3 separate regions of the Homo sapiens genome follow, and regions 1 and 3 are each linked to region 2. The links come from fine-mapping of genetic effects on gene expression. A gene starts in region 2. Each other region holds a variant in brackets. All regions are shown on one strand. Distances are between the middles of the regions.

The links. PIP is the estimated chance that this variant, and not a neighbour inherited with it, causes the effect.
Region 1: its variant is the best candidate, but not a certain one, in a credible set for the expression of FHL2 in whole blood (TOPMed, PIP 0.74).
Region 3: its variant is the best candidate, but not a certain one, in a credible set for the expression of FHL2 in whole blood (INTERVAL, PIP 0.51).

What each region holds. Positions count from the first base shown.
Region 1 is chr2:105,373,519-105,383,777 of GRCh38, reverse strand. FHL2 (four and a half LIM domains 2) reads left to right here. Exons shown (of 7, transcript NM_001318895.3): 4 at 10,045-10,219. It also overlaps a transcript of C2orf49 not described here. Among named protein-coding and RNA genes, the nearest start is that of FHL2, 20 kb to the left of the region's middle. RefSeq lists an enhancer at 9,604-9,883. The variant G/C (reference allele first, on the strand shown) is at 7,084.
Region 2 is chr2:105,394,437-105,405,170 of GRCh38, reverse strand. It overlaps FHL2 (four and a half LIM domains 2), which reads left to right and starts at 6,120. Exons shown (of 7, transcript NM_001318895.3): 1 at 6,120-6,329; 2 at 8,474-8,524. RefSeq lists silencers at 6,017-6,146, 6,167-6,386 and an enhancer at 5,517-6,339.
Region 3 is chr2:105,415,079-105,425,812 of GRCh38, reverse strand. It overlaps a transcript of FHL2 not described here. Among named protein-coding and RNA genes, the nearest start is that of FHL2, 21 kb to the right of the region's middle. The variant C/T (reference allele first, on the strand shown) is at 4,635.

The DNA of each region.
Region 1 (10,259 bases), 21 kb after region 2:
TTGGGTTTGTAGTGGAAGCAATGATAGAAAAAAATGTTCCTGTTTTTTTCTGGAAGTAAAGCCCACAATCCTGGCAGGCGGGGAGATACCTGATAGAGGAACTGTGCTCTTAGGTCTGGTGGCCAATCTCTTCTCTTAAAATAGCACAGCCACCACAGGCCTCAGCTACTTCCCTCTAAAGGACATGTTCATGTGTGTGAGTTTTAAATGTTGGCATGCCTATGGGAATTAGGCTAATTTTGAGAGTCCTGACCTACTTAAATGAGACAGGCAAGACTTCAGAGCCTGTTATATAGTTTGAACATCCTCTCTATGTAGCCACTGAATTGTAATCTTTATTTCTATTAAGTTACTCTGGGAAAATGCTGTGATCTCAAAGGGTAAAGATTATTGATTTGTATGGCCAGTGTAATAGTGGAGAATAGACAATGCTAATACAATTTTATGATCCTCTGACATTACATGCTTCCTGAACCTTTTCTTGGATACCTGTTAGCATTAACAAAATATTTTCGTAGACTGATTACAGAGTTTTTGGGGGATCTGCCTACGTTCTGGGCTTCAAAAATTCAACCAACTAAAGAAAAAATAGGGCTGGGCACAGTGGCCCACGCCTGTAATTCCAGCACTTTGGGAGGCCGAGGCAGGTGGAACACTTGAGGCCAGGAGCTGGAGACCAGCCTGGCCAACATGGCGAAACCCCGTCTCTACTAAAAATACAAAAATAAGCTGGGTGTGGTGGCGTGCACCTGTAATCCCAGCTACTTGGGAGGCTGAGGCAGGAGAATCATTTGAACCTGGAAGGTAGAGGTTGCAGTGAGCCAAGATTGCGCCACTGTACTCCAGCCTGGGTGACAGAGCAAGACTCCATCTTAAAAAAATAAAAATAAAAAATAGGCTGGCCAATAACTCCAGAGACAGCTGCTAATACTGTGCATTTAACAAATTGGTGATTTTAAGCCCTGGGCGACACACGTAACCTAGACTTTGAATGTTCCATGGGTCTGCAAGCAATGCCATGAAATTGGACTGGCCACCATACCCACCCATGTGCTTGGAGGGTGCTACAAAGAGAAAAAAAAAATAATAAACAAGAACAAAAGATCTGCAGATCAGAAACTAGCATTCAGGGTTTAGTTTCTAGTGGTAGTCTTTGAAACCACTGTGTATTGCCTGATGACTTGTTCCAGGCACTTGTAAATGCCTAAACTGCATGATCTAAATTTCTCCTAACACCCTATAGGTAGGAACTTTTTTCATTCCATTTTATGGAGTAGCCGCTGAGGCCTAGAGAGGATGAGGATCTTGCCAAGGGTTAAAGGGATTAGGAAGTATCCGAGGTACAATTTGAGCCCAGACCCGGAGGGTCCTCACCTAGCATGTGATGCCACCTGCTACCTGCAGCCTCGGGCAGGACCCTGTCTATGTGACTCTCGGGCCAGATGTGGTCAGTCCTTATGAGTAAGAGATGGTGACCACCTGGCCTCAATCAAGTGACCTTCAGTCAGAGGCCCCTACTCTTCTCATGGGCCCCTTTAGATGGTGATGATTACATTGCAGAATTGAGGCTCAAGTTGTTTCACAAACTCTCTTTCCAGCTTTTGTAGCTAATAGGAAACATTGAAGTGATGATCAAATTGGCTGTAAAAGTCTCAGTTAATGTTTGGTAATGGACAGAAATGTTCAGTGATATTTTGGCAGAAAGCAACCTGGCAGGGCTCTGAAATAGGAGACGAAGGTTTTCACACATACAGGTTAAATCTAGATGCCCCTAGTATATTTTGGAAGGTTTCTGACCAAGCCTAGTGAAAGGTGTAAGGTCAGGTTTGAAAAACCCACCCTTCTGTCCTCGGTGTAACACAGGCCTCCCTCGCTGGTCTTTCTGGACCCTTTTCTGGGAAGAGCACCTACTCCAGTCACATTCTCAGGGTCCAGCCTGCCAACCTGGTGCTTTTTTATTTGTTGGGGTGGTTTTTAAGTTCTCAATGAGCAAATTACCTTCTTGGATCTTCTTCCGTGTAGAATTTGTCCACAGAGTTTGTAACGAGCACTGAAAACGCGTATTTATTTGGATTTCCTCCTAAAAGACAAAAATCTGTCTGTGAAGGGAATTTAATCAAGCAGGGTCCTAGGATCAGAAGCAAAGCTGTCTGGATGGATTTCATGAGAAGGGCCTGTCAGTGCACGAACTTGGCCTGTCAGTGCATAAAACCAAAAGTTCAGCCACAAGACATAGCAGCAGAGGTGCACAGCGCTCAGCAGTGACCTCGCATGCACCGAGGCTGGACCCCGGAACCAAATCTCCCTGGCTCCACCTTTGACAAGCTGCGCGAAGGGGACAAGTCCTGCCACCTATAAGCCTCCGTTTCCATGTCTATACACTGGGGTTCCTAGCTCACGGGACTGTCGGGGTAATTGAGTGAGTTAACGTCTAGGGAGCACCTGTGACATGCCAACACAGTGCTGTCATTTCTGCTGTTGTCCATTTTTCTGCATCTTTATTTGTAAGGATTTGAAAGAATGTACAGTTGGAAACCTGATGATCTCAAGCAGAAAATATCTTTTCATAACGCTGAGCATGAATGACATGAGAATCCATGTCTGAAGTGAAATCGTATGGATCTGAAGAATGGTTGGTGCCAGCCCTGGTGGAATGGGGTGCGAAGGAGGGAGGATGAGAGCCAGACGTTTCAGTCTGGGTGACCCTGCCACCCAGAGCCACCTTCCATTAACTGAGGGGTCCAGGGCTCCCTCCAGGCCACTTGCCACTAAAGCTCAGCTAAAGTCTCAAAAAGGACACATTCGGAGCCAAGCAACAGGCACAGCCCATGTTAGGAATGTTTCTGCAATGGAAAAATACAAAACCAGAAAGGAAGTGTGTGGGCCTAATCGTACATGTTTATCAACATTTTACTGCAATGTATGACATTTCTGTGAGCACAAGATTAGCCTTGGTATTTTTTTCTGGGAAGTATAAAAGACTTTTTTTTTCTTTCTTTTTGTTTTCAATTTCTCTCTAGAGGAATTTAAAACCGGATATTTCCATCTTAAAGTTCTTGAGCAAGTCTGTCAAGGTGTCCATATTTCTTACCCTGTTCCTCTCAGCATCGAAGTGCTATCTCTGTTACACTCATGTTTGCTGTTCACAATGGAGTACTAATGAAATAGCAAAATTAAGCTACCGGCATGGTGCTAATAACTGAAACTAAAAATCGGTTTGGAGCTTTTCTGTTTGGAAAGAGTCACTTGAGCCGGGCGTGGTGGCTCATGCCTGTAATTCCAGCACTTTGGGAGGCTGAGGCAGGAGGATCACTTAAGGCCAAGAGTTTGAGACCAGCCTGGGCAATATAGCAAGACCCCTGTCTCTAAACAGATAGATGATAGATAGACAGACAGAACAGATAGATAGAAGAAAAGAAAAGGGTCACTTGGCACTAGGTCTTCACAGGTAAAGATTCAGAGTGTGATAGGAAGCACAGGCTCAGGCACCCGGGTCTAATCAATGACAATCTCGCTTCTAGGCCTTTTGGTGGCATTTTCTAGTCTACCTCTAAGCTCTAGGGAATCGTGTGGCTAAAATCTTCCCTCCTGCTGAGACTCAGAGAATACCATGTTGGCCAAGATCTCTAAAACAATCAAACCTGGCAGTATTGAGTTACCTTCCTCTTATCATAAAGTCTTTCCTCACTTCCTCCTTATTGTGAACTTTCTTAAGAAGCGAGTCCAGGAGGAAGCAGTGACATGAATTTATTAACTTGACTCAGACTTCTAAAGACAACACAAACTGGGCGCCCCATTCAGAGAGTGACAGGGAAACCCCGTGGCATAATTAGTTACCTACGAGTTTCCAAATAGGATTTGGAAGGAGACATACAAACTAGGTCGCCGGCGTGGCACATGGCTTCCCTGAAGCCAGCATTGCCCTGGCCAAGGAAGCTTTGCAGAACAGATGAGATTTCAGCTGGGACTTGCAGCCAAGTGGGATTTGGCCTTTTGGGGAGAAGGGAAAGGGCATTCAAAGGCCAGGGACAGAGTATGGTCAAAGGCATGGAGATGAGGAAGAGGGGACCAGAGCAGAGGGTCAGGTTGGAAAGCGAGTTGGGGTCAATCTGCAAAGGGGCTGACGTGCCAGGTAAAAAACAGGAGCACAGTTTAGTTTTGTCGGATCATTTCAGGTGGAAGGGCAGTGGGAATGTTGGAGAAAACACTTTTTGGTGTCGTTACATTGAATCTGCTCATCTATAAGAATAAAACTTTATTTCATAGAGTTATCGTATGGCTCAAAATAGGTATGAAGAATTAAGAAAAAGAATTTTAGATTTAAAATGAAAAAGCACCTACAAAAGTAGAGTGGTAGAGTTACCAACGTGGAGCTTTAAGGTGGCAGATATTCTCATTGATAGGACTGTCTTCATAAGGAAATGTAGGTTCAGCAAGTGACACATTGAGGCAACTCTTCTCATTATTAGCTGTGGTCTAAATAATGACTTATACTAACATCCATTGAGCAATTGTAATACATACCAGCAACTGTTATACATGCTTGTTACAGCCAGTAGTGGGTCCATTATTCCTGCTGTACAGGTCAGAAATCTGGCAAGAGAGGTTCAATTACTTCCCAATGGTGATGTACGTGGCATAGGGCAGAGCCAGGATTTAAGTTTAGTCAATCTGGCATTTGGGCCCTTGAATTGAACCCCTAGGGTGAAATAACCAAGCAATTTAATCACGTGCTCCTGGGATCCCAGAGGGGCGGGCGCTTGACCCACAGTGATACAAGAGATGTGGACTGTGGGACCTCATGCTCTCCCATCCTGCTTGCATGCAGCAGGCATTCAGGCATTTCTGGCCCAGGAAGCCCACCACCCTGTACTGCAGCAGGGAGGTGGGCCAGTTCTGTTCCCACTGAGGACCCACCAACAACAATGATGCAAGCTTGTTTACAGAGTATTTTTAGTTATTGTACACCACAAAACTTAAGAACGTGAGCATAGGTTAATATTTATCTTCAGGGAAAAGAGTTTCCTTTAGAAGGTTTTAGAATTAGGAACTGCTGCACGCATATTCACTCAGGAATGCTTGTGTGTGCAGTCATAAAGGTAGGCTGAGAGAAACGTTGCGGAGCTGAGTGCAGATGGCCCCAGGGAATGATGCCGAGATAACGCAGCCCTGGGCAGGCAAAGGCACTTTGTGGAAGGCACTCTGTCTTTTGTTTCTTAGGACAAAACCTGGATCTCTGCATGCCCCAACCCGAATGGGATGGGGAGCACTTTCAGGTGTCCACTCTACACCAGCCTGAAGGGAAAGGGCAGCATCTGGCAGGAGCCAAGGCGAAATGGTTCCCAGGGGATATAGCAGACCAGGTTGTCCTGAGAGAATGCGGCCTTCACCTTGCGAGGTGGGATCCGATAGAGCAGGGTGTGGGGGGACAGGCTGCGCCTGCAGAAGGTCTCCAAGTCTTGCATGGATGCTTAGTCCAGTAACATGTGGATAATATCCACATTTAGAGGGACAGTTTCAAGTGTCACGTGTCAATGAATCAGTCTTAAACTGTAGCTATTGCATTTTTGTGCCATAAATATTAACTGTAGGAAAAATGGAATTCTGCAGTGCCTTGGACCCATGTGCATGTCTTAGCCAGCTTTTCCATGTCTGTGCAGGCATGCTGATGTGCTCTTTCCTCCATCTGGGGACTTAATGACCGGAGCACTGGCTGTGGTGACATCTAGTGGCTTTGCTTTCCTGTTGACCTTGGAGATTTCTCTCTCAGTTTTTCTTGAAGGTCAGTCCCAAAAGGCAAATTTTCTAGAAATTGTATTTCTCTTCCCTCTCTTGTCACTGATAACTTGCCACCCCTCTGGGCGTAATGCCTCCTCCCTGGGCAGGGCAGCCACCATGTAAAAAGCAACTATCTTCCCAGAGAGAGGCCAAGGATCTCCTCCCCTCTCCCTGGCGCCTACTCCTTCAGGTCTCTTGTCCCAGCCAGACAGTGACTCTTGGGTCATGGAAAACATTCTGCAGCTTTTCCCCAAACGAGCAGTCCTCTATGAGGTGGCTCGCCTGCACAGGGGGACAGAGGTAACTTCTGAAACGGTGTTTTTTACCTGCTACATAACAATCAAAACTTACTTTTTTTTCTTTTGGAGACAGTTTCACTCTTGTTGCCCAGGCTGGAGTGCAATGGTGCGATCTTGGCTCACTGCAACCTCCACCCTCCACCTCCCGGGTTCAAGATTCTCCTGCCTCAGCCTCCTGAGTAGCTGGGATTACAGGCATGCACCACCACGCCTGGCTAATTTTTGTATTTTTAGTAGAGATGGGGTTTAACCATGTTGGCCAGGCTGGTCTCGAACTCATGACCTCAGGTGATCCGCCTGCCTCGGCCTCCCAAAGTGCTGGGATTACAGGCGTGAGCCACCTCGCCTGGCCAAAACTTACTTTTTTATTCTTTTAATTATGGTAAAATACACAGAACATCACACTTACCTTCTTAACCACTGTTAAGAGTACTGTTCAGTAGTAAGTGCATTCAGATGGCTGTGCAACCAATCCCCAGAGCTTTTGCTTCTTGCAAATCTGAAATACTACCCCCATCAAGCCCATTTACGCCTAGTATTCCATTAGTGGAATGCTAAGCATGTGGGAGTTATGTATATCTTACTGCTCAAGATCATCGCCAAGGTCTGATTGCAGAAATTCAAAAAATTGCAACCTCAGGCATGAATGGGTTACAGAACACATTCTCACTCCCATTCCCCTCTCATCCCAGCCCCTGGCAACCACTCTTCTACTTTCTGTCTCCATGAATGTGACTTCCCTAAGTATCTCACATGTGTGAGATCATGCAGTATTTGTCCTTTTGTGACCGATTTGTCGTTTCACTTAACGTCATGTCCTCAAGATTCATCCATGCTGTAGCATGAGTCAGAATTCCTTTCCTTTCTAAGGCTGAATAAAATTCCATTGTATGCACAGACCACATTTTGTTTACCCCTTCACCTATTGATAGACATCTGGCTTGCTCCCACCTTTTGGCTATGGTGAATAATTCTTCAATGAACGTGGATGTACAAATATATCTTC[G/C]AGACCTTACTTTTAATTCTTTTGGGTATATATCCAAAAGTACAATTGCTGAATCATATGGTAATTCTACTTTTAATATCAGCCATGGTGTTTTCCACACAAAATTTATTCTTAATGCATTTCTTCCACAATCAGCATTCTAACAGTGATAACATGAATAAAATCTCCATCTCTTCTTAAATTAGGCAGATTACTGTTTTGGGTGGATAGGGCTTCTAATGATTTGTTCAATTTTATTCAAAGTCTAAACAAAGGCAATACTGAGCCACATTCATTTAGGTACAAAATATGTTCTAGAAAGTTGCCAGAGTTTGGTCGTTTCTGGATTTTTTTAAATGAACACACACACACATCTCCTCAAGGCTATCTGTTTTGAAAGCAAAGAGTAACACAGACCCGACCAGGATTTTGCCTGGGCTGGTTCAGTGGAAATAACTTTCGCATCAGGAGGACTTGAGCTCGAAGCTTGGCTTAGCTCCGTGCCAGGTATGTGACTGGGCAAGTTACGGAACTTCTCTGACCTTCAGTAATAACATTTACCTTGCAGGGCTGTGCCGTGCCTGGAGCTCACAGATGGGGTAATGATGGTCATCACTAGTGTTTCAGATGTCTTTTTGAAGCCGGGGCGTGTGCATGGAAAGAATGGAGACCATGCCTGTTCCCGAACGATGATGATGTCCATGTGGATTGTGGGCTTTGCTGTTTCTCATGAGTTCACATGTGTAGACATCAACTCAAATCAAAGCAGTTTGTCCTCTATTTCACTTGTCAAAATAACCAATAAAGCACAGGTGATGTTCCCCTCAGATTTCTGAAAATACTTTAAGCTAAAAATACAAAAGACAGGTTAGCCCTCTGCCCCCAACTCCCAGTGCATACCCAGTTTGGGTTCTCAAGGATGAAGAGGGCTTGGGCATTTCAGCAACCTGCCCCCGAGTCCCCCTGACAGGCAGTGCCTACCCCAGGGGACCCACAATACCCAGAGGTGCTGGGCTCAGGTGAGAATGAATTCCGCAGAAACAAGGGCATTTAGTCCAGCTTTGAGAGCACTCTATGCTCCTCTCACCTTCATTCCTTTTGTTTTGAGACTGAGTCTCCTTCTGTCACCAAGGCTGTGCAACCTCCACCTCCCAGGTTCAAGCGATTCTCCTGCCTCAGCTTCCCAAGTAGCTGGGACTAAAGGCATGCACCACCACGCCCGGCTAATGTTTGTATTTTTAGTGGAGATAGGGTTTCGCCATGTTGGCCAGGCTTGTCTTGAACTCCTGACCTCTCCTTCATTCTTTATCGTCTTGCGTCAGCAATAATCCTATTCCCAGATGTTCTAGGAAGCAAACTTCCAACAGGGATAGCACAAGAGGTCACCCCTCACAAAGGCCATAGTCATGACTGTCTTCAAAGTGTCTCAGCGTTCACATTTTTAAAATTCCTTGAACTAAAACAAAATGCGCAAAGAGATCACTAAATCAAATAACTAGTTTGGTTCCAGGTTCCGGGAAAACACACATACATGCACACATGTGCACACGCACGCGCACACACACACACACACACACACACATACTTCAGCAAAAGAGAACTGTTTGTTCTAGTTTTGGTTCCGAGTTAGCTGGTGTTTTAGGACTTTCTAATCAAGGCCAAGATCCATGTCTTCACATCCTACATTCAGCATAACTCCAGCTTCGACTTCGGTTTCAGTAACAGAGACATCGTGGGCAGGCTCTTCTTCAGGGCCATCGCGTGAACAGCCCTCCTGTGCCCTGTTCAGGATACCTACCAACTGGAAGCCTGCCCAGGAAACCGTGCAGAGCCTAATACTCTGTTTCTGCCTCATGTATAAATGGATGATGATTTGGGGTCAGAGCTGGGAACACAAAGACAGCAATAGAAACATATCCTTTCTAAGATAAAGCTGGGCATAAAGAGATTGTTATTTTAATTTTGTGTTGGCACTTTAAAAATGCCGTATGTCATTTTTAAAAGGCAAATATGGAGGGTTCTCTTATTCCTCAGGCAAGATGAAGCCAAGTGTGGAGTCGAGTTTTCTGCGGGGCTCCTTTCTCTCCCTCATCTTTTACTCAAAAGCACACGTCTGTCTTCTCAGGGCCTCTCTCATGTGTGCTCAGTTTTTGTCTCACTTCTCCCACCCTCACGCCCCTCCACTCCCACATCCTTACCCGTCCCCCAGTCTGAGCACTTCACTCTCCTGTTGAAAAGCAGCTGTCCACTGCCTTCAGGATCAATGGAATCTCTACACAGACATAAAAGGCAAAAAGGCAGCCATATCTTCCAGTCCAGCCAGGCCGGGGGGCCCTCCCACCTCGCCCCTGGCCTGTGGTCCCTCCAATCTGACATGCCCCCCGTCCCCAGATCTTCTGTGTCTGTGCTCTTTCTCTGCCTGAAATTCCCTTCCTCCCCCAGCTCACGGCCACCCACAGAGGTAGCACCCACACACACAGTCTCTCCTGACCGTCTCCCACCAAACAGTCCTTGGGCCTCCTGTGAACATCCCGACACCCAGAGCCTCTCTGCCATGCCGGTGACCACAGTGATCTGAGTTGGGCAGGGCTCCCTCAGCCAAGGATGTCCTGCAGTCTGTTTCTCTGTCACCGGATGTGGTGTGAGACGAATTGATAGGTGTTCATGTTTTCTGTTTCTCTTTCTTGCAGGCAATACATAAGGGAAATCCCTTTGTTTTTTAGAAGCATCTCTCACACACAGACATGTGCATACATGCACATCTGTCTAACCTGTTGCTCTAAAATGCAGCAAGAGAAAAGCAGCCTAGTCTTAATTGATTTCAGCAGTTAGGTGGTCCTGGGGCATGAATGTGGGTGCGCCAGGGTGCCTCGGCCCAACTTCTTTCCTTGTTTGCCCTGCAGATTCGCAAGGGGCCCCTATGCTGTGGGTCCAAGCCCTCCTGTCCTGCCTCTGACTGTCTTGTGTGGTCTGGCCCCACAGGACTTGTCTTACAAGGACCGGCACTGGCATGAAGCCTGTTTCCACTGCTCGCAGTGCAGAAACTCACTGGTGGACAAGCCCTTTGCTGCCAAGGAGGACCAGCTGCTCTGTACAGACTGCTATTCCAACGAGTACTCATCCAAGTGCCAGGAATGCAAGAAGACCATCATGCCAGGTCAGGAGGCACTCCTTTCTCATGCGTGAGCCAGTCTAGC
Region 2 (10,734 bases):
ACTGAAATCAGAGACAAAGAGATCTCAAATAAGAAGCAAAGTTTTTCAGAGTCTACCTTACAAATACTTTTCATCTGAAACCATCCAGCAACATTTACTGGCCCAAATGAACTATGGGTGTGAATAGTTTCATTCTATTGGTCATTAATGTACCAAACAGAGTCTTTCTTAAAGAGGTATCAAAGCCACAGTGGAAACTGTATCCGACGCTCCAAATAAACTCTAACCAAGGATGGGAAACTCGGAATCATGGAGTTGTTTGTGGATTTGGCTAAAAGTCAGGCATGTTTTGAGGCTTTAAACACTGATTATTTATATCCAACAAATAGTTTGTGAAAAAGGAGAGAGGGAAGAAATGGGATATGGAAATTGTGTATCTCAAGAAAGAGCCAATCATTTTCCCTCCTAACCAGAGCATGGCAGAAGGGAGAAGAAAAGGAAAAGAGCTTGCCCTTTGTGGAAAGCTGAGCTTTTCCTGAAAGTCTGACAGGCAGAGAAACAAAGTTTGGATCCTGCAAGATCGTTCCTGTAACCAGATCAAGTTCCTCCTGTTTGCTGGAGGCCCTTGGGTCTCCCGTCACAACTGCACCCAGCTCACGGGCACAGGCAGGTGCATACCCTGCCCGTAGAGTCATCTTTCATAGACTTCCCTGCTGGATCCGGGCAAATAGTGTTTCCAGAAAAAGCGAATCCAGCTTTCTGTGCCACCACCCTGGGATCTGGTACTGTGTCATGGGAAGGCATGCAGGGACTTGCCTCCTGACCCCACTGCCAGGAGGGGTGCTGGTTTGATCACTCCTGACCCCTTCCCGCCAGCATTTATGATCTTAGACACTTACTCACCTTCCAACCATGTGAGGCAATTAAGAATGATTGCCTCTGAATCAAGGGCAAATCATCCACCAGTTTCCTGGCCAAGGTTTGAGTGGGAGGAACAGCTTGTGTGAAATCCTTTAACGGTGACAAAATGCTTAACAATCTTGATGGCAGTGGTCAGTTAGGGTAACGAACATAGGGCGGTCTGACCTCCAGCTCATGTTTTCCTGTGTTCACTTTCTACCTGGTAATGGTGAGCTCATCCTAATCCCCCTGGGGTAGCCCCCATCCGGGTAGGAGGCTACTGTTGGCCCCTGCACAGATGGGTCTAGCCCACCAGCCTCCCCCCCACGACCCCACCACAGGGTGGCAGTTGCGAGCACACGCCTAGAAGCCCTGCCTTTCTTTGGCCTCTCCCAGAGAATGAAATTTCAGCATTTGTACAGCTCAGACCCACTGGCTGAAACTTCTACCTCCTGGCTCAAACTTCTACCTCCTGCTTCCCTGAGTGAAGTAACTGACAGAGGAAGTAATACTTCCAACTGGATTTTAGAGTTCCTGAGTCTAGTCTATGTTTAGTCTATCTCTATTTCCCTGTCCCTCCCCCACGCCCTAAACTGACATTTCGTAGGTTTCTGGTAAATTACCGAGTCCAGAGTTGGAAGCCCTAAGTGGTATTTATTTTACTTCAAATCACCTTTAGTCATCAGAATCACCTGGAGGGCGTGTTAAAGCAGGAGCTGGCCTGAGAATGTGCACTTCTAACAGGTTTGCAGGGGATCCTGCTGCACTCTGGGACAAGGCTTTGAGACCTGCTAGCCGCAGGAAGTCTTTTCCTCTCTTTCCTCCCTTCCTAGCTGTGCCTCTCCCTGAAGCCCACCTACAGGAGAGACGGGAAAACGTTATGGGCAGTGTTGTCTCAAGAAGGAATGTCAGGATAATTGGAATAAACAAAAGAAGAACTTGAATAACTGATCACAGTCACCGTTGATCCTTTCCCCAGGAAATAGTACTTTTTGTTTTTATTTTCTTCCATGAACTAGCCTTTTATCCATAGCAGAGAGGTTTTCTCTCAAGAAGAAACAGGATCTGAACAGGATCTGAACCTTAATTCTTCTTCTGGTGGGAGTTCAGTCCATTTCCTTCTTATTCTGGATTAATTTCCCCTTTGCCATTGAATAAAACAGAGGACTTTACAAAGGGCCTACTTCATGCCAAGTAATGTGTTAATAGTTCTAAGTGGTTTATGTGCATCTCAAAAGACCTTCGCCACAATTTCACAGACTATATGTTATTAGCCCATTTTACAAACTAGCAAACTGAGGGTTAGGGAAGTTTTGTAGTTACTGGAGATCATAGTAGTCATAGATAGAACAGAGATTCAAATCCTGGCTTGACTTCAAAGATCAAGCTATGCTGCCATAGACAGCATTACGCTTTCTATAGTGAAAGACTTGTCACAAACAATTCTGTGATCTGTCACTTATTCAATACACATATTTATTAAGCACATACTATGTGCCATGCTCTATAATTAATTAGGTCCTAGGAATATAATGATGTACAAGATGGATGGAACTTTTCAAAACATATTTTCTTAGATTGTCTCATGAAAATTTGTTTTTAATACTTTGTCCTTCGATGGAATTGCTCATGAAAGCATATGTCATTAAACCCAGAAATTGCATTCCCCTCCTCAATTTCTTGCCATCCTCCTTTGACTTACTATTAATATCAGTTTAACAAATTTGTTTCCTATTTTCCTTAAAGGAGTCTGTTGCTTTTATTTTTAAAATATATTTAGTTTTTGGGCCAGGCATGGTCGCCCACGCCTGTAATTTCAGCACTTTGGGAGGCCAAGTGGGTGGATCACAAGATCAGGAGATCAAGACCATCCTGGCTAACATGATGAAACCTCGTGTCTACTAAAATTATAAAAAATTAGCCGGGTATGGTGGCACATGCCTGTAGTCCCAGCTACTCAGGAGGCTGAGGCAGGAGAATCGCTTGCACCTGGGAGGCAGAGGTTTCAGTGAGCCAAGACAGTGCCACTGTACTCCAGCATGGGCAACAGAGCAAGACTCCATCTCAAATACATATATATATACACACACACACATATATATATACACACATATATATACATATATACACATATATATACATATATACATACAGATACATATATACATATACATACATGTGTATATGTGTGTATATGTGTATATGTATATATGTATATATACGTGTATATATACACGTATATATACACATATATACATGTATATGTACATACATACGTATATATACGTATATATATATTCGTGTATATATACGTATATATGTATATATTCGTGTATATATATATTTAGTTTTTGAATGAGTACATTAACATAGCTCAAAATTTACAAGAAATAAAAATGTGTACAGTAAAAATTAATCTCCTTTCCACCCCATGACCCCTAGCCACTCAGATCTCCCCAGAAGCAACCGCTTATAAATATACATTGTCTTCCCCCGTCCTTTCTTTGCTCATGAACACAAATGGTTGGTTTCTACCTACAAAGTGTTCTCTACTTTTATTTTTCTCAGTTGATTTATCTTGGAGATCATGCCAAATCAGTAAATATAGTTACCTCGTTCATTTTAACAGCCGCATATGTAAATAATTCTAAAATGCACCATACTGTATTTAACTAAGCCCTTGTTGACGAACACATAACATGGCCCAGTATTTTTCTATTACAAACAATTCTACAATGACTACTCTTGTGTGTCTATCGTTTTACACAGGAGCAAGTATATCTACAAGATAATTTCCTATAAAGGGAAATGCTGGGTAAAGAGAAAATGGTATGTTCATCTGTAATTTAAAAATGTTTTCATTATGGAATTTTTCAAGCATTACAAAAGGAGACAGACTAGTAAGATGAACTGCTGCATATCCATCATCAAGCTTCAGCGATTATCCACAATCCATGGCTGATAGTATTTCGTATATATATAGGCCCTATCCATTTCCCCACCCCAAATTATTTTGAAACAACTCCAGGCATAATGTTATTTCACTAGGAAATATTTTGGCACTGTTCTTGAAAAGCAAGGACTTAAGAAAAGAAAAATATATGTGTGTGTGTAATCACATTATCACCCCTAACATAAATTGTTCATTAATACTAGAAAATATCCTGTCAGTGTCATATTTTCCAAGGTTGTCTCATAAAAATTGATTTTCTACTAGTTTATTCTTTGATTAGAATCCAATAAGATCCAAAAAAAAAAAAAAAAAAGAATCCAATAAGATCCATACATGGCAGTTGGCTAAGTCTTTTTTTAATCTCTTGGTTCTGTCTCCATCTCTCTTGTTTTTCTTTGTGCATCGTTGTTGTAGAAACTGGGTATGTTTGTTTCCAGAGTCCGGATTTTACTGACCCTATCGAATGACCACAGGGTCATTTAAAATGTTCTGCTACCCATTAGGTCAAAAATTAAACACAAAATTAAATTGCAGAATTTCTTAATAATAAAACACAACATAGCTGAACCTATGTGACACAGCTAAAGCAGTTATTAGAAGAAAAATAACAGAACTAAATAACTCTATCAGTAAAAAAGCAAAGCTAAATGGATTACACCCGTAAGTCAGAAAGCTAAAAAAAAAAAAAAAATTAAAATATAAGACAAAAGGAATCAGAAAGAAGATAAATGCAGAATTAATGTTTCATCATTTTAGGGCTTGTTTTTACAAACTGAAGCTTAAGACTCACCATTTGAGAACTAGGAGACCATTTCCTAATTTGTAACGATATCAACAACACATCTAGGTAGCTGTCAGGGGCTGGGAGCCTTTTCTACACAAACTTTGCTCTGAATTTCAAAATACTAGCCTGTCTTGACACTTAGTGGAAATTCAGGTAGGGTGGCCTTAACTCAGGTTCTTCAGGAAAGCGTCCTGTTTCAGGGACACAGTGGGGTGGGGTCGGGGGAGGGCTGTATTCCGCACATCTAGTTCTGGCTGGGCTTATGGCAAGTCTCAGTCCTCTGGAGTCACCTGAGTGACTGAGGGATGAGAGGCATTTCTGATCCCGTAATATACTTACATGGCTTTGCCATCTACCACATCCCAGTTCAAATCTCAGCTGGCACAGTTACCGTTCACGTGGCCTGGAGCAAATCTGAGCTGAACTTTCCTCACCGTAAATCTGGTAAAAATCTTTACCTTAAAGGAGTGTGGATCAAATGAGATACCAGGTAGAGCTAGTGCTCACCGAGTGGAAGCTAAGGTGATGAAGCCCCTTTATTCTCAAGTTCTGTGATTCCATGATGGAGACCCATGAGGCCTACCAGACGGAGAGTATCAATTAAAAGAAAGCAATCACGGAGTTCTTCCCGCCTTCTCTGGAGGATGTATTCCTATGAGCTGCCCCGAATGTTAAAAATAATACACCTGCCCCCAAAGTGCCGAGGACGCCTTTGTGGTCCACCTACTCATCGTCCACCGGTTTCTGCAAGTGGACCGGTTACCTGCTCAGGAGCAAATGTTTCCATCACGACGCACCCTCTCCCAGGGATGGGCTCAACCTGTGCTCTCCCTGCGACAATGCTGAACAGTGCCATCTGTCCCTACCCAGCGTCAGCGTCACGCAGAGGGCCCGGGCTTGGAATGTGGGAGGCACGCTCCCAGCTCACTTTGGTTTTCCCGCCCTGGAGGGGAATCCAAGATGTCTAACTAGTCTTCTGGCCCCGAGAGGGAGAGGTGGGGATAGGACCTTCCTTTAGTCCCCTCCGTAGTGGAACGAAGGATTCTTTATGGTCATCTGTGGTGTTCATTTCGTAAAGAAGCATCTGCAGGGTAAGAAGGAAAAACGTCCACCTTGCAAATATATCCCAGGCACATGCCTCCTGAGAAGTGACCCCCTCCTCCCTCCGCCTCCCCCGGCACGTCCTGGGGCTTCTCCAGTCTCCCGCTCCTGGGACCAGGCAGAGATCCCGGCGTGGGCAGACCCCTGCCACCGCGCCCAGGCCTCGTCCGAAACTCGCGCCCGAGAGCCCACGCCGGAGGCGACGCTCCCGATAACTACTGTGCTCCCAAGACCCGGAGGGCACGAAGAAAGGAGCCCTGGCAAACAAAGGGTACGGGCCGGGACCGCCGCAGCCCGGGGCGGGGGCACGGCAACCGCGAGGCCTGGGGGCGCCCGCCCCCCGCGCCCCACGCCCGGTGCCAGCGAGCCGAGGCGTGCATCTCCTTATATGGTCAAATGACACGGCGGGGTTTCTCGAGGGCGGGAGCTGCGCAGCGCTCCACTCGGCCGGCAGCGGAGCCGCAGCCACCAGCCGCCCGCGCCCTCCAGCCCCGTCCGGGAGTCCCCGGCCCGCTGCGGTGCCGTGAGTACCTCCAACCCCCTGCGCCCCGGAGGGAGGCCGAGGGGCTTAGCCACCAGGGCTCGGAAGTGGGGGCCGAATCCGGTGCGAGACCCAAGGAGAGGGGAGCAGAGCCGGAGTTGGGGAGACTGGTGAGAGGAGAGCAGAGCTGTGGGTCCGGGAAGACCACTGGGAGAGGGGACCCGAACCGTGCGGGGAGAAGCCGGGAGAAAGGAGTTGAGCTGTGGGGTAGACCCGGGAGAGGAGAGCCGAACCCTGGGGGTTGGGGGTGGGGAGACCACGGGGAGAGGGGAGCGGAGCAATGGGAGGGGTCTAGACCCTGGGGGCGCTGGAGCTCAGAGGAGCCCACCGACTCATCCCCAGAGGGAGGACTGCAGCCCGCGTCCTCACCAGGTGGGGCACCGCCATGCGGGCAGGGACCGGGCGAGCCTGGGTAAAGGCTGGCCGCGGGTCCCAGCCGGCGGCTGCGGGGAGGTGACGCTGTCCGCCTGCTTCCAGGCCCGACTCCCGAGCGGGCTGTCCTGGCACGGTGGTCTGCGCGGGGGAGTCCGGGCCATTTCCCTTTAGTAGAAATAAGTGGAGTTTGCAGTGTGACCTCGCTCCTTGACTCAGGTAGACATTTAATAACTGAACCATTCGGTTAAAACAAAAATGGCTTATTTTAAATGAAAAGATTCTAAGTTTTTCTTAAGTCGCACTCGTGTGATATCTTAGCATACCAGAAATAGAGGGAAGAAAATATTGAGTGTTTTTCTGATTTTAAATGAATCAGTCATATTTATTTTCATATCCTCAGTCGGGTTTTAACTGGAAGTAGGCTAATCCGGTTAGCTGAAATGTGTAGCTGGCTTGCAAGCAGCAGTGTACTTAGACATCACTGAACTTAAGGCCCGCACTCCCTTCCACATATTTTGGAAGGTAATAAATCACAATTTGGGTTTAGAATCAGGAGAACTGTCTTCAAAACACAACTCCCAATACATCTCACATTTTTGGTGCTGACTCTACTAATGAGTGTTTTATAATAATATATTAAAGAAAAGAGGTTTTGCACTATCCTGAAGATGTTTTAGACAAAAAAAAACAAAAAACAAAAAAACAAAAACCATTTGCATCAAGTCTTAGAAGTACAGGAATTCCTAGTCTATCAATTAAACTTTAATAAAACCAAACTCAAAGAACATTTCATTGTGCATTTATATAAAATTTTGTCAAGTGTTACTGGATTTAGATCACCCCCCAGTTTAGAAGATCATCAGTTAATACACAGAATTGTGTTTCCACGGTGTTTATTAGCCTGCCATGGTTTAAAATGCGTTTACACCATAACATGTCGATGAAGGCTAATGATGGGCTTACTACAGACCAGAAACTGTTCTGGGCACATAGGTTCTGTCTCATTTTAGCTCACCGTCTCACAAATAGCCACAGGCAGATGCAGTAGGCTAGGGGATGCCGGGGACTGCATGTAGGCTGCCTAAATTTACATCCGGGTCCCTCAACCTGTGCAGCCTGGGCCAAGTCACTTAATCTCGTAGTGTCTCGGTTTTCTCCACTGGGAAACAGGGACAATGATGTTGTCTTTTTGTTAGGGTTGTTAAGAAGCCTGGACATCATAGACAGTGTATACATATTTGATAGCCTCATTTTTACAGGTAAAGACACTGAAAACAGAGATCAAAGTAACTTTAACTCAGGGTTTCCCGGGCTGTAAATGGTAGCCCTGAGATCTGACCCCAGGCAGCTTAACTGGAGAACCTGAGTTCTAACCACTAAACGCACCACGGGAGGAACATTTGAATATTTATTTATTTTTTTTAACATTTGAATATTTCTATGAGGCCTTATGATGCATACTTTGACCCAAGATTGCGTGTTAAACCATTTCCAGTACTGAAAGATATTTAAATTGCAGTCAAAAACGCCCAATAGAATATTGCCAAAAAAAAAAAAAAAAAAAAACAGACTAGATATCAGGAGTAGTTTACTCCTGTCCTGTGCCGAGGGCCAGTTACTCAGCCTCAGTGACTCAGGCAGCCTCCTTTGTCAGCACCGGGCCTGAGTCGCTAAGCGGCTCTCTGACTCAGATGCCCTGAGGTACAAAGTTCCTTGAGCTTGGGTGAATGGAAACATTAGACATTGGGTTCTTCTGTGCGGTTTTATTATGAGAATTTGATCAAAGCCACATTTATTAAGTGTCCATCTCAAGTTGCATTATACTGAGTTCGCTTCCTCAAGATGACCATCTGAAACAAAACACGTGTGCTTTCTCTAGTGGCTGAGAACTGTGTCTTCCTGGAGACTAGGCTGGCATTTTGACTTTGGGGTGAGTCAAGTGAATTTCCTCTGTTATCCTAAATTGTGGATTTCAGTTTTAGCTACTGTGATGGTTACTTTCATGTGTCAACTTGACTGGGCCATGCGGTGCCCAAACATTCAGTCATATGTTCTGGGTGTGTCTGGGAGGGTGTTTTTGGATGAGATTGACATATGAATGGGTAGACTGAGTAAAGCAGGCTGCTCTCCATAATGTGAGTGGGCCTTGTCCAAACAGTTGAAGGCCTGAATAGAACAAAAAAACTGAGTAAGAGGGAAGCCCCCCTGCCGGACTGCTTGAGCTGGGACATTGGTCCTTTCCGCCTTTGGACTCACACTGAAACATCGGCTCTTCTTGGGTCTATAGAGTCTCCTCTTTTCAGACTGCAATTTGCACCATCGGCTCTCCTGGGTCTCCAGCCTACTGACTGCAGGTCTTGGGACTTTTTCACCTTCGTAATTGTGTGAGCTAAATCATTGCGATAAATCTCTCTATGTACATCTCTTGTTGGTTCTATTTTTCTAGAAAACCCTGACTATTACAGCTCTCTGGTAACATCTATTTAAAAAGTCTCCCCACCAACTGTCATTCTCCCTTTTTTTAAGATTTGATCACTACTTTGCTCCTGGGAGTCTTGGCTTTCCTCTTGCTGTAAAACATGCTCTCTGCATGGGGATGTCACGAGGGGTCTGGAGCAGCGTCTGGTCTCCCAGGTCCATCCCAGTGCTCGTGGGTGGTGTCTTGCCTGGTGTGAACTTAGACTTCACACTCATCCTCAGCCTTCGGTGGCCCACGCCTTTACTAGCCTGATTCTGTCTGCGGCTTCAAGATCCTCCCGTCATATGGTCTTGAGTGAGATGTGGGATGTCTGTGGCAGAAGCAGCTGCCCTGTTTTCATGGGTGAACAGAATTAATGCCAGAATGTCCTTGCAGTATGTAAATATGGAGCTTGTCAGTCAACAAGGAAATAGACCTGTCTGCTTGGGTTAATACAACTTTTGGAGTCACTAAGAAGCAGGCAGTCAATGAAGGAAGCAGAAGGAACTGTGCAAGCCTCTCGGGACAGAGTCCTGTTGCAGTGCGCCAGAGAAACCCCACAGAGTGGCAGGACTGCAGTGAGAAGGAGGTGGCCAGTCATTCATGGAAGCTGCTGGATGCCAAGAGAAAGGCCAGCATGGGGGTGGGGGTCATAGGCACCTCAGATAGCTGGGAGAGTGAACAGTGAGCCGCACTTGGGAGGTGAGAGGAGACCCCTGCCATGAAGAAGAGTGGGTGGTTTTCGTTTTGTAGGTGTAGAAGTGTTCGTAACTCACTCAGGGAAGGCATGGTAGAGCCATAGCATGCAGGATGGAGTCTCCCTTGGTCCCCACACTGGTGTGATTGACGGACCCGAGGCCACCCGCCATTCTAGCGTGTGCAGCTATGGTTGTCCTGCATGGCTGCAATTGATGTGTTTTGAGATTAAATGACAAGATGGGATCTTAAAGGTGATTTAAATTATTTGGAGCTAGAACTAGACTGGAACTCCTTCATAGACTGTGTGTTTTATCTCAGCTTCCCAGTGCCTCACGTAGCACATGGAAAACAGTGGTTACTCAACACATTCTTGTCGGCTGGGTTCAAAAGGCTGAACGACATCAAAACAAGTGTAACTCCTCTTGTAGTCATGGACTTCAGATCAGAAATTTGATATTTATTGTTTTCCCTTTATTTTTAGTATTCAATATTCAAAAGATAATTCAGAAGACAGCAGTTTACCTTATTCAAACATTGCCTCATGCAGAACCACCAGAGATGAAGATGTTTATTTATTTTTTTTAAGTTGGAAGTTACCAGTTTATGTAAACTATAATACACCTCTGACACCTGTCTGTACATGCATTTAGTAAAGGCTTATTAAATTAATCTGTAAATATATTATACAGTGGTAAGCATAGTCAATTTTATACCTTACAAACTAAGATTGTTTAAAATCCAACAATTTAAAAATAGATTTCAAGTGGATGCTAGATACTTTTTTTCTTTCTTTCTTTTTTCTCTTTCTTTCTTTCTTTCCTTCTTTTCTTTTTTTTTTCCCAGGGTCTCATTCTGTTGCTCAGGCTGGAGTGCAGTAGCTTTTCACAGGTGCCATCATAGCTCACTAAAGCCTCAAACCCCTGGGCTCAAGCAGTCCTCCTGCCTCAGTCTCCCAGGTAGCTAGGACTGTAGGCACACATCAC
Region 3 (10,734 bases), 21 kb before region 2:
AGAAGGTCAGCAAAAAACATGTGAGCAAAAGAATCTATGTCATAATTAGGTTCAAGGGAAGGTACTATGACTGGACGTGCACGTAAGCCAGATTTATGTTTCTCTCCACCCAAACATCTCAGTGGAGTAAAGAATAACAAGGCAGTATTACTGCAAACATGTCTCGTCTCCCGCCACAGGGCAGCTTTTCTCCTATCTCAGAGTTGAACAAATGTACAATCGGGTTTTACACCGAGACATTCAGTTCCCAGGGGCAAGCAGGAGACAGTGGCCTTCCTCCATCTCAACTGCAAGAGGCTTTCCTCTTTTACTAATCCACCTCAGCACAGACCCTTTACGGGTGTTGGGCTGGGGGACAGTCAGGTCTTTCTCATCCCACAAGGCCATATTTCAGACTATCACATGGGGAGAAACCTTGGACAATACCCTGCTTTCAAGGGCAGAGTTCCCTGCGGCTTTCTGCAGTGCATTGTGCCCCTGGTTTATTGAGACTAGAGAATGGCAATGACCTTTACCAAGTATACTGCTTGTAAATATTTTGTTAACAAGGCACGTCCTGCACAGCCCTAGGTCCCTTAAAACCTTGATTTTATACAACACATGTTTTTGTGAGCTCCAAGTTGGGTCAAAGTGGCTGAGGCAAAGTGGCTGGGGCAAAGCTACAAATTAACAACATCTCAGCAAAGCAATTGTTTAAAGTACAGGTCTTTTTCAAAATGGAGTCTCTTATGTCTTCCCTTTCTACATAGACACAGTGACAGTCTGATCTCTCTTTCTTTTCCCTACAATATATATATACTTTAAGTTCTGGGGTACATGTACGGAATGTGCAGGTTTGTTACATAGGTACACATGTGCCACGGTGGTTTGCTGCAACCATCAATCCATCATCTACATTAGGTATTTCTCCTAATGCTATCCCTCTCCCAGGCCCCCACTCCCTGACAGGTCCTGGTGTGTGATGTTCCCCTCCGTGTGTCCATGTGTTCTCATTGTTCAACTCCCACTTATGAGTGAGAACATGTGGTGTTTGGTTTTCTGTTCCTGTGTTAGCTTGCTGAGAATGTTCCAGCTTCATCCATTTCCCTGCAAAGGACATGAACTTATCCTTTTTATGGCTGCATAGTATTCCATGGTGTATATGTGCCACTTTTTCTTTACCCAGTCTATCATTGATGGGCATTTGGGTTGGTTCCAAGTCTTTGCTATTGTGAACAGTGCCACAATAAACATATGTGTGCATGTATCTTTATAGCAGAATGATTTATAATCCTTTGGGTATATACCCAGTAATGGGATTGCTGGGTGAAATGGTAATTCTAGTTCTAGATCCTTGAGGAATAGCCACACTGTCTTCCACAATGGTTGAACTAATTTACACTCCCACCAACAATGTAAAAGTGCTCCTATTTCTCCACATCCTCTCCAGCATCTGTTGTTTCCTGACTTTTTAATGATCAGCATTCTAACTGGCATGAGATGGTATCTCGTTGTGGTTTTGATTTGCGTTTCTCTGATGGCCAGTGATGATGAGCATTTTTTCATGTGTCTGTTGGCTGCATAAATGTCTTCTTTTGAGAAGCGTCTGTTCATATCCTTTGCCCACTTTTTGATGGGGTTGTTTGTTTTTTCTTGTAAATTTGTTTAAGTTCTTGTAGATTCTGGATATTAGCCCTTTGTCAGATGGCTTAGATTGCAAAAATTTTCTCCCATTCTGTAGGTTGCCTGTTCAACTCTGATGATAGTTGATTTTACTGTTCAGAAGCTCTTTAGTTTAATTAGATCCCATTTGTCTATTTGGGCTTTTGTTGCCATTGCTTTTGGTGTTTTAGTCATGAAGTCTTTGCCCATGCCTATGTCCTGAATGGTATTGCCTAGGTTTTCTTCTAGGGTTTTTATGGTTTCAGGTCTTATGTTTAAGTCTTTAACCCATCTTGAGTCAATTTTTGTACAAGGTGTAAGGAAGGGATCCAGTTTCAGCTTTCTGCATATGGCTAGCCAGTTTTCCCAACACCATTTATATAATTGGGAATCCTTTCCCTATTTCTGTTGTTTGTCAGGTTTGTCAAAGATCAGATGGTTGTAGATGTGTGGTGTTGTTTCTGAGGCCTCTGTTATGTTCCACTGGTCTATATATCTGTTTTGGTACCAGTACCATGCTGTTTTTGTTACTGTAGCCTTGTAATATAGTTTGAAGTCAGGTAGTGTGATGGAAGTAAATACCTTTAACCAGAAAGACAAGACACAGAGATAAACATTCTTCCTGCTACAGAAATATGGTGGATTCCTCAATGGCTGTGATCTTTGAAAAGAGAAGCAACTGTTGTCTATCAAATAGCTAAAAATACTGTTAGAAGTATAAATATGTCCCCTGATATTGTCAGAAGTTTCATCGAAGCCTCAGGCAAGCAAAATGTGTCCTCTGTTTGTACCTCAATCTCTACTCCTGCAAAATGCAGATAATTATACCAGTAAAGGACTATTGTTAGAGTTGATGCAATAGGTTTATGAAATCTTCAAGTGGCTTGCAAATAATTCAAAATCGAACTGTAATTTCCAATCATTCTAAAAGCTTCATGTTTCATTTTTTGGAGACATTATTGCTCTGTTGGCTTTTTCTAACATATGGGTATCACTGACAGCCTCCATTCTGTACTAAAATCTAGAAGAATCTTCATTCCTCTGGGGGCAAACATCAGAGAGAGGAATGGAAGAGCTGCCCCAGGGACCTGACGCTTGATACCACTTCCTGAGTCAGGCCCAATGCAAGCATCCTCAGCTTGCTTTCCACTATGAGGGAGTTGTAATGGGTTCCCATGCCGTCTGAGCTGCAGGAAAAGGAAAGAAGTGGGAGAGTAAATTAGTGTTCTGACATTATTGACGGAAGACTTTACTCTCGTTTCCTAGTTATCTGAGAGGTACAGTGTCTATTGAGTAAAACTGTCAGAACGAAAAACAGTGGTTCTGCAATGATTTTGGTATCTTGTACAATGCAACCTGTAGTATAACTGATACAGACAATCCTTTTCTCAATCAAGTAATCAATTGATAAAATAAACAGGACAAAAAAATCAACCTAAAGATGCAATCTCGTGGCAGTATTAAACTCCAGACAGTATTTAATTTTGATTTCTCTCACCTGGAGCATTTTTTTTTTTTTTTTTTTGCCAGAGATGAATCACATCTGTCACAACAATAACAACAACAACAAATTAGCGGAAAATTGATTTTCATGGTCCTGTTGTCTCTAAGTGGCTTGTGGTTTAGTTTGTAGATCATGTCTTATCTAGAGCTATAATCCTATAATGAAAAAGTAAATTAAACCAAGAGGAAACTATAAATAAAAAAAATATTTCTCTTATATGTGATCCACTATTCCCATCACAGTTTTGCTTCCTAAGTAGTTTTGTCTTATCTGAGAAGCACCAAGGATCCATCCACATAGGGCCCCTGCAATTCCCATGCACATGACATGCACCTCCATATGCATCTTGCCACCAACTTGAGAATGCCAGGAGCTGGTTGTGGTTCACAAGGCATGGGAGTTCTTGCCATTCTCACCAATAACACCAGCATCTTGAAAACCCAAAGCATAAAAGCAAACAAGTTACAAACATAAGCAAACCAACACATCTTCAAGCCAAACAGCTGTTTCTTACTATGGCTTTTCCTTTCTGGTCCACAACGCGGCCAAGATTGCTGCTGGACATGCATGGTGTTGGAGGACTTGCATGTATGTGGGGAAGGACTGCCCTCCACCGTGATTCTTTCCTAGGGCAACTCCTCTGAGCTACGCTGCCAATGCACGCAACAGGACCCCAGGAGGGGCAAAAAGCTGATGGGAACAAAAAGATGTACCAGTGAACTCTGGTCTTAATATAAAACTAGCATGGTGGGTAATAGAAACATCTTTTCCATTAAATCAAAGAAACAGATCTGGAAAACTAAATCCTAGAATGTTGAGTCCCTGATGGCAGAGACTGCATTGCAAGCTCATGCATGGAACTGTGCCCTCTGCATCACAGAAGTGCCTCCATTTGACAGTTACGATATCAGTGTCATGAGGCTGGGATACCTCTCTTGGTCAATGCAAGCCATAGTATAACTGAGCTAGACACTTTCTCAATCAAGCAGCCTTTTGATAAAGAGGACACAAAAATCAACCTAAAGATGGAATTTGGTGGCAGTGTTAAACTGCAGACAGTATTTAATTTTGATTTCTTTCATCTGGAGCATTTTGTTGCCAGAGATCTGTCACAACAACAACAACAACAAAAAATGGGCAGAAAATTGATTTTCATCATCCTGATAGCATTTGTCCTAGAGACAGCATTTGTGTTAAGAGAATAGTGTTTGTCTTTTTGATCAGGAGAGTTGAGCTTATGGTCTTAACTTCAGGCATTGGGCCTTCTGTAGCGTGCTTGTGAATACTCCACCCAGCATCTACACTCCAGTGACCAGGCTTTTGGGTTGCTGGTCTTTGAACTTTGGCCTGTAACCTCAAGCAGGGCAGAACATTGCCACAAAGCCCCAGATCACTGACACCAAATCAAATTTGTGTGGACTCTGTCCCAGACATTCCATGTGAAACTGGCTGTCCTTACAAGCCAGAGAGAACCCAGTGACGATGGGAC[C/T]AGGGACAGTTCACTTTCTTCCCATTGGATTACCTTCTTTATCAAGGGAGCACTGGACCACATGGAGTCTGACCATAAACTGCATCTGTCTCATGAGCTGGATCCAGTATAGGACAGGGACACTGGGCCACCACTGGCTCTGTACAACCCCAGTGCCCCATTCTCATGGTGTGGATGGAGCCCCGTTTTCTCCTAAAACTTGTCCCACTAGTTCAGGGGTCCCCAGTCCCCAGGCCATAGACCGGTACTTGGTTCATGGCCTGTTAGGAACCCAGCCACACAGCAGGAGGTGAGCAGCAGGCGAGAAGCATTCCCCACTGAGCTCCACCTCCTGTCAGATCAGTGGAGGCGTTAGATACTTACAGGAGCATGAACCCTAATGTGAGCTGCACATGTGAGGGATCTAGGTTGCATGCCCCTTGTGAGAATCTAATGCCTGATTATCTGAGTTGGAACAGTTTCATCCTGAAACCCTCTGCCCCCCACCTCCCAATTCATGGAAAAATTGTCTTCCACAAAATGGGTCCCTGGTGCCAAAAAGGTTAGGGATATCTGCACTAGTTCCTCCTCGCCATCCCTCTCTCTGCCCCACATCTGTTAGATTCTTCCTCATGTTACTATTAGTTATGAATAATTTGCTACTATTATTAGTGAAGGTGTTATGGGTTGAGTGTCTCTCCCCCAAATTGATATGCTGAAGCCGTAACTCCTAATAACTCTATGGCCTTATTCGGAAATGGGGTTGTTACCGAGTAATTAGTTAAGAGGAGGTCATTAGGGTATCCCTAATCCAATATGAGTGGTGCCCTTGTAAAAGGGGATATTAGGGGGACATTTGGGCAGACGCACACACAGGGAGATACTATGTCCACGTGAAGACAGAGATCAGGGAAGTGAGTCTACAAGCCAAGGGATGCCAAAGATTGCCAGCAAACCACCAGCAGCTAGGGAGAGGCATGGAGCAAATGCTCCCTCACAGCCCTCAGAAGGGACCAACCCTGCTGACACCTTGATCTTGGACTTCCAGCTTCCAAAACTTGGAGACAATAAATTTCTGTTGTTTAAGCCATCCAGTGTGTGGTACTTTGTGATGACAGCCCTGGCAGACTAACACAATGGGGCATTGGGTGGCTTATCTTTGAGCAAATGAAGAACTGAATCCAAGCAGTCACTTCTCCTCTTGAGACCTTGGCCAATGCATCCCCTCCCACCCTCAACTGAACACTTTCCCTTAATGACAATGCATGTTCAGTCATACTGGACTATGTAGTATAGGGGAGGAAAATAAAACTTTTCCTCAACCTTCTTCTGTTCCTTAGCTGGGGTCTGTTAATTACACTGGCAAAAGTGAGACCATCAGGAGAAAAGACAGACAAATCTTATTTTATGTTATTATTTTAATTTTTATGTGAAGGGACATTCATAGAAAAGAAGTGAAGAACCAAAGAGGCTGTTAGACCCAGGAGTTTATATACCATTTTAACAAAGGGTGATAAATTTGCAGAGAAGTAACAAAACAAGCAAAAAGCAACCTGGGCTTCTAGGACTGGGAGAGTACACATATAGGGGAACCTAATGAAAGATAAGGGTGATATTGGTGAGGTTTGTTTGTGCAGACCTGTCTTGGTGCTGACTTTCTGTTTCCAGTGACAAGAGTTGGTCTCCTCTTGGTATGGAAGATGGGAGGAGAAACACCTTCACAAAGGGAAATTTATGTCCTCCTTTTTCTGCATTTGCTGCTTCTTAATTGCCTTCACCTCAAAACAATCCTTATACAAATGATGCAATAGACTTTGGGGACTCTTGGAGAAAGGGTGGGAAGGGGGTGAGGGATAAAAGACTACAAATTGGGTGCAGTGTCTACTGCTTGGGTGACGGGTGCACCCAAATTTCACAAATCACCACTAAAGAACTTACTTACGTAACCAAACACCACCAGTTCCGAAAAACCTATGAAAATAAAAAAATTTTTTAAAAATCCTTATGCCAAAGTGGCATATTCTGGTGTGACATATTTTGGTTTGGCATATTTTGATTCTCCAGTGGCCTTCTATAGATCTACATGTCTGTCTTTCTGATGTATGGGTATAGGAAAGCCTACTTTGTGGACAGACATATACTAAAGAAAATACTTGTATACAAATATTACACACCAGTCTCCCCTTATCTGGTGGGGATAAGTTCCAAGACTTGCAGTGCATGCCTGAAACTGTGGATAGTCCCAAACCCTGCATATACTATGTTTTTTCCTGTGTATACATACATATGATAAATTTTAACTTATAAACTAGTCACCGTAAGAGATTAACAATAAATAATAATAAAATAGAACAATTATAACAATATGCTGTAATAAAAGGTATGTGAATGTGGCCTCTCTCTGTCAAAATATTGTACTGTACTGTACTTAATCTATTTTCAGCCCCACAGTGGACCATGAGTAACTGAAAGCGTGGAAAGAGAAACTGCAGATAAGGGGAGCGGGAGGAGGGCGCTACTGTATGAATAAATACACTTTATAGAGAGATATATCCTTGAAGAAGAAATAGAATACTCTATGTCTGCGCATACTTTATCCACAGTTGTATTCATAAAAATGTAAAGTGCAGAACGGAAACTGCTCACTAAATCAGCTCAACTGAAATATCTGGATAATTAGTGGTACCTGGTCTTTTGGACCCAGTTCTCATGAAATGTGCAACTCTGACCTACTTATGAGATTAAAATGGGTTTTTTGTTTTTTTTTTGTTGATGTTGTTTGACCACCTGGGTCTCTGAGGCTTATTTTCAATAGGAGGAAAATAAGTGGTTTCTGTTGGGGAGAGTGTTTCCCTGTGGCCCAGGTGGCTTGCCCTGGTGCTTATCTGCCTGGTCCCCACATCTTTCAAACCAGAAGGCCCAGGAGTTAGGATATCCAGCTTAACAAGCCCAGCACTATCTCAATGATGAGCCCTTGGCAGCCTTGGGTGGCCATTCGCAGAGTCAAAAATAAGGACAGATATGAAACACTAGCTATACAGACTGTGTCTGAATCTCCACCATTTACCCACATGGTGGAAAATACACTACCTCCAGTCCTATTACAAAATATAATGACTTCCCCAGCCTAAAGTGTTTTAATTCTGTGGTTCTCAATGTGTGGTCCCTATACCCCTGAGTCCTTTTCAAGGAGTTTTTGTGGTTAAAGCTATTTTTTTGATACTATTAAGATATGACTCATCTTTTCACTGTGTTGACATTTATGCTGGTACAAAAGTTGTGGTGGGAAGACTCCTAGTGCCTTAGCAGGAATCAAGGTGGTGGCTCCAAACCAAACTAGTAATCATGATATTCTTCATCACCAAGCAGTAGGGGGAAAAAGAAAAGCCCAGCTGCATTCCAGAATGACCTTGACAAAACAACAGTAACAATTATTAATGTTATTAAATCTGGACCCTTAAACACACACATCCTCTTTTTTTCATTCTTTCTTTCTTTTTTTTTTTTTTTTTTTTGGAGATGGAGTCTCGCTGTATTGCCCAGGCTGGAGTGCAGTGACACAATCTTGACTCACTGCAACCTCCACCTCCCAGGTTCAAGCAGTTCTTCTGCCTCAGCCTCCTGAGTAGCTGGGACTACAGGCACACGCTGCCACACCTGGCTAATTTTCTGTATTTTAGTAGAGACTGAGTTTCACCATGTTGCCCAGGCTGATCGCGAACTCTGAGCTCAGACAATCTGCCCGCCTCAGTCTCCCGAATTGCTGGGATTACAGGCGTGAGCCACCGTGCCCAGCAACACATTTTTTTTTTCTTTTTTGAGATGGAGTCTAGCTCTGTTGCCAGGCTGGAGTTCAGTGGCAAGATCTTGGCTCACTGCAACCTCTGCCTCCTGGGTTCAAGCGATTCTCCTGCCTCAGCCTCCCGAGTAGCTGGGATTACAGGCACGTGCCACCATGCCCAGCTAATTTTTGTATTTTTAGTAGAGATGGGGTTTCACCGTGTTAGCCAGGATGGTCTCAGTCTCCTGACCTCTTGATCCACCCACCTTGGCCTCCCAAAGTGCTGGGATTACCGGCGTGAGCCACCGCGCCCGGCCGCAACACACATCTTTTTAGTATTCAGAGTGATGAAAGGGAAGATGCATGAAGCACTTCTGCTCATATCAAAGAACTGTGACTGTCTTGAGGAAAGGAAGTTGTGCAGTGGCCCAAGTCGTGAGTTCAACAAGATGTTTCTTCCATTTTCACTTGGAAGAACAACTGACAGACAAAGCATACTTAGATTTTGGCAGTAGATATTTTCCCAAAAATGCAGAGTAGCCTGTCATTCTAAGGGAAACAACTGACAGTATTTGTTTTTGTTTTCAAGGATAAAATTTGAGTTTTCAGGTGAAAATTAGCATTTTGGGAAACTGTGAGTGTGGCAGCTTCCCAGTGTGTAAAAACTTTCCTGATTAGATGGATGGTGATATCAATTACTGTAATTTGTTAATATTGTATAATGAAATGTATCAGCATTTGGAAGATCTATAGAAGCAATATTTTCTAAATCTAACAAAACAATGTGTAGGTTAAAGATCTGTTTAAAGCTTAAGATAGACCAAATGGGCTTTAATGTAATAGAATATGAAAAGTATTGATGTGATTTCAGATTCCACATTGCAATCTTTAAGCAGTAGTTAAGAAACATCTCTTTTTCAAATTTTGGTGTAGAATCTATCCATTTATAGAGAGAGATGATGATCTGAGATGGCTATCAAGATATTTCTCTTTTCCAACGACATTTCTGTATAAGGTTGCATTTCCTTCATAAATTTCAACCAAAACCACATACTCCACAGATCGAATGCAGAAGCAGACATGAGCATTGAGCTTTCCAGCTGTCTTCTATTAAGCTCAATGTTAAAGAGATTTGCAAAAATTCAAAACCACACCACTCTTCTTACTAGTTGTTTTGTTTTGGAAAGTGTAATTATTTTTCATGAAAACATTCTATGTTACCTGTTACGGATTTAATGTTAATTTTAAATGAATTAATTTTTTAGCTTCTAAGTTTTATTTTCTAATGCAGTAAATATAATAGATATAACCTACATAAACAAAAGCCCTTTGGGATTCTTAATAATATTAAAGAGTAGATAGGGCTGTACTCTTTGAGGCACTCTTTAAGAACAGGGGTTAAGAGTAGCTGGTTTAATTAAACTTGAAATTGATTGAATATGGTTCCACACACAGTTTCAATTCTTGTTAATATTCCCCATCTATTCCTATTGTATAAAACACTGAGTCAAAGACGTATTTTTTGCTGAAATCATCTAGATAATTGTACCATATGGGCCATTTTCCCACCATGGGGTACCATTCGGTTCCAAGGAGTCCCTGGTACTTAACTTGGGGTTAGGGCCACAAAGAAATAACTTAAAAACACAGGAATCCCGGTGCTTTTAAGAAATTTGCATTGCTTACTTCATTTGTTTATTTATTTATTGTTGGTTCTATTTTAGGAACAGTTTTTCTTCAGGCTGTTTCCCAACACATTTTAATGTGATTTTCAGACACGGTTTTCGTTCTTGCAAACTGTGTCACATATTATTTCCCTGCCCATTGTGAAGCCACCTTCAATCTCTGTTTAAAAGTGTTATTGAATTTAATTGTTTAAAGACATTATTTAAACCACCTTTGCTGTGGTAAGATATGCTGATTATTTATTTACTTTATATTATTTTAGTTATTAACAGGTAATCAATGCACACGGTGCAAAATTCAGAAGCAACAAAAAGAGAATAATTAAAAGTAATTTTCCCCCTCCCTCCATTCTCTTCCTTAGTTCTCCCCAGAAGCAACTACTATTGCCAACTCCTTGTGCATCCTTCCAGATATTCCAAACATGTATAATAGCCACACATCCTTTTCTTACAAATGGTAGGATACTCCACACAATGACTTGCACTTTCCTCTTTCACTTAACACCCTGTCTTGGAGATTGTCCCAGAGAGTGAGATTTTGCCTCACTATTTATAGCGGTGTAGCGCTTGCTCCATTGTATGGACGAATGACTTGACTCTGCCCCTACCTATAAACATTTAGATTGTTTCCCAACTTATGCTACCTTAAAGAATG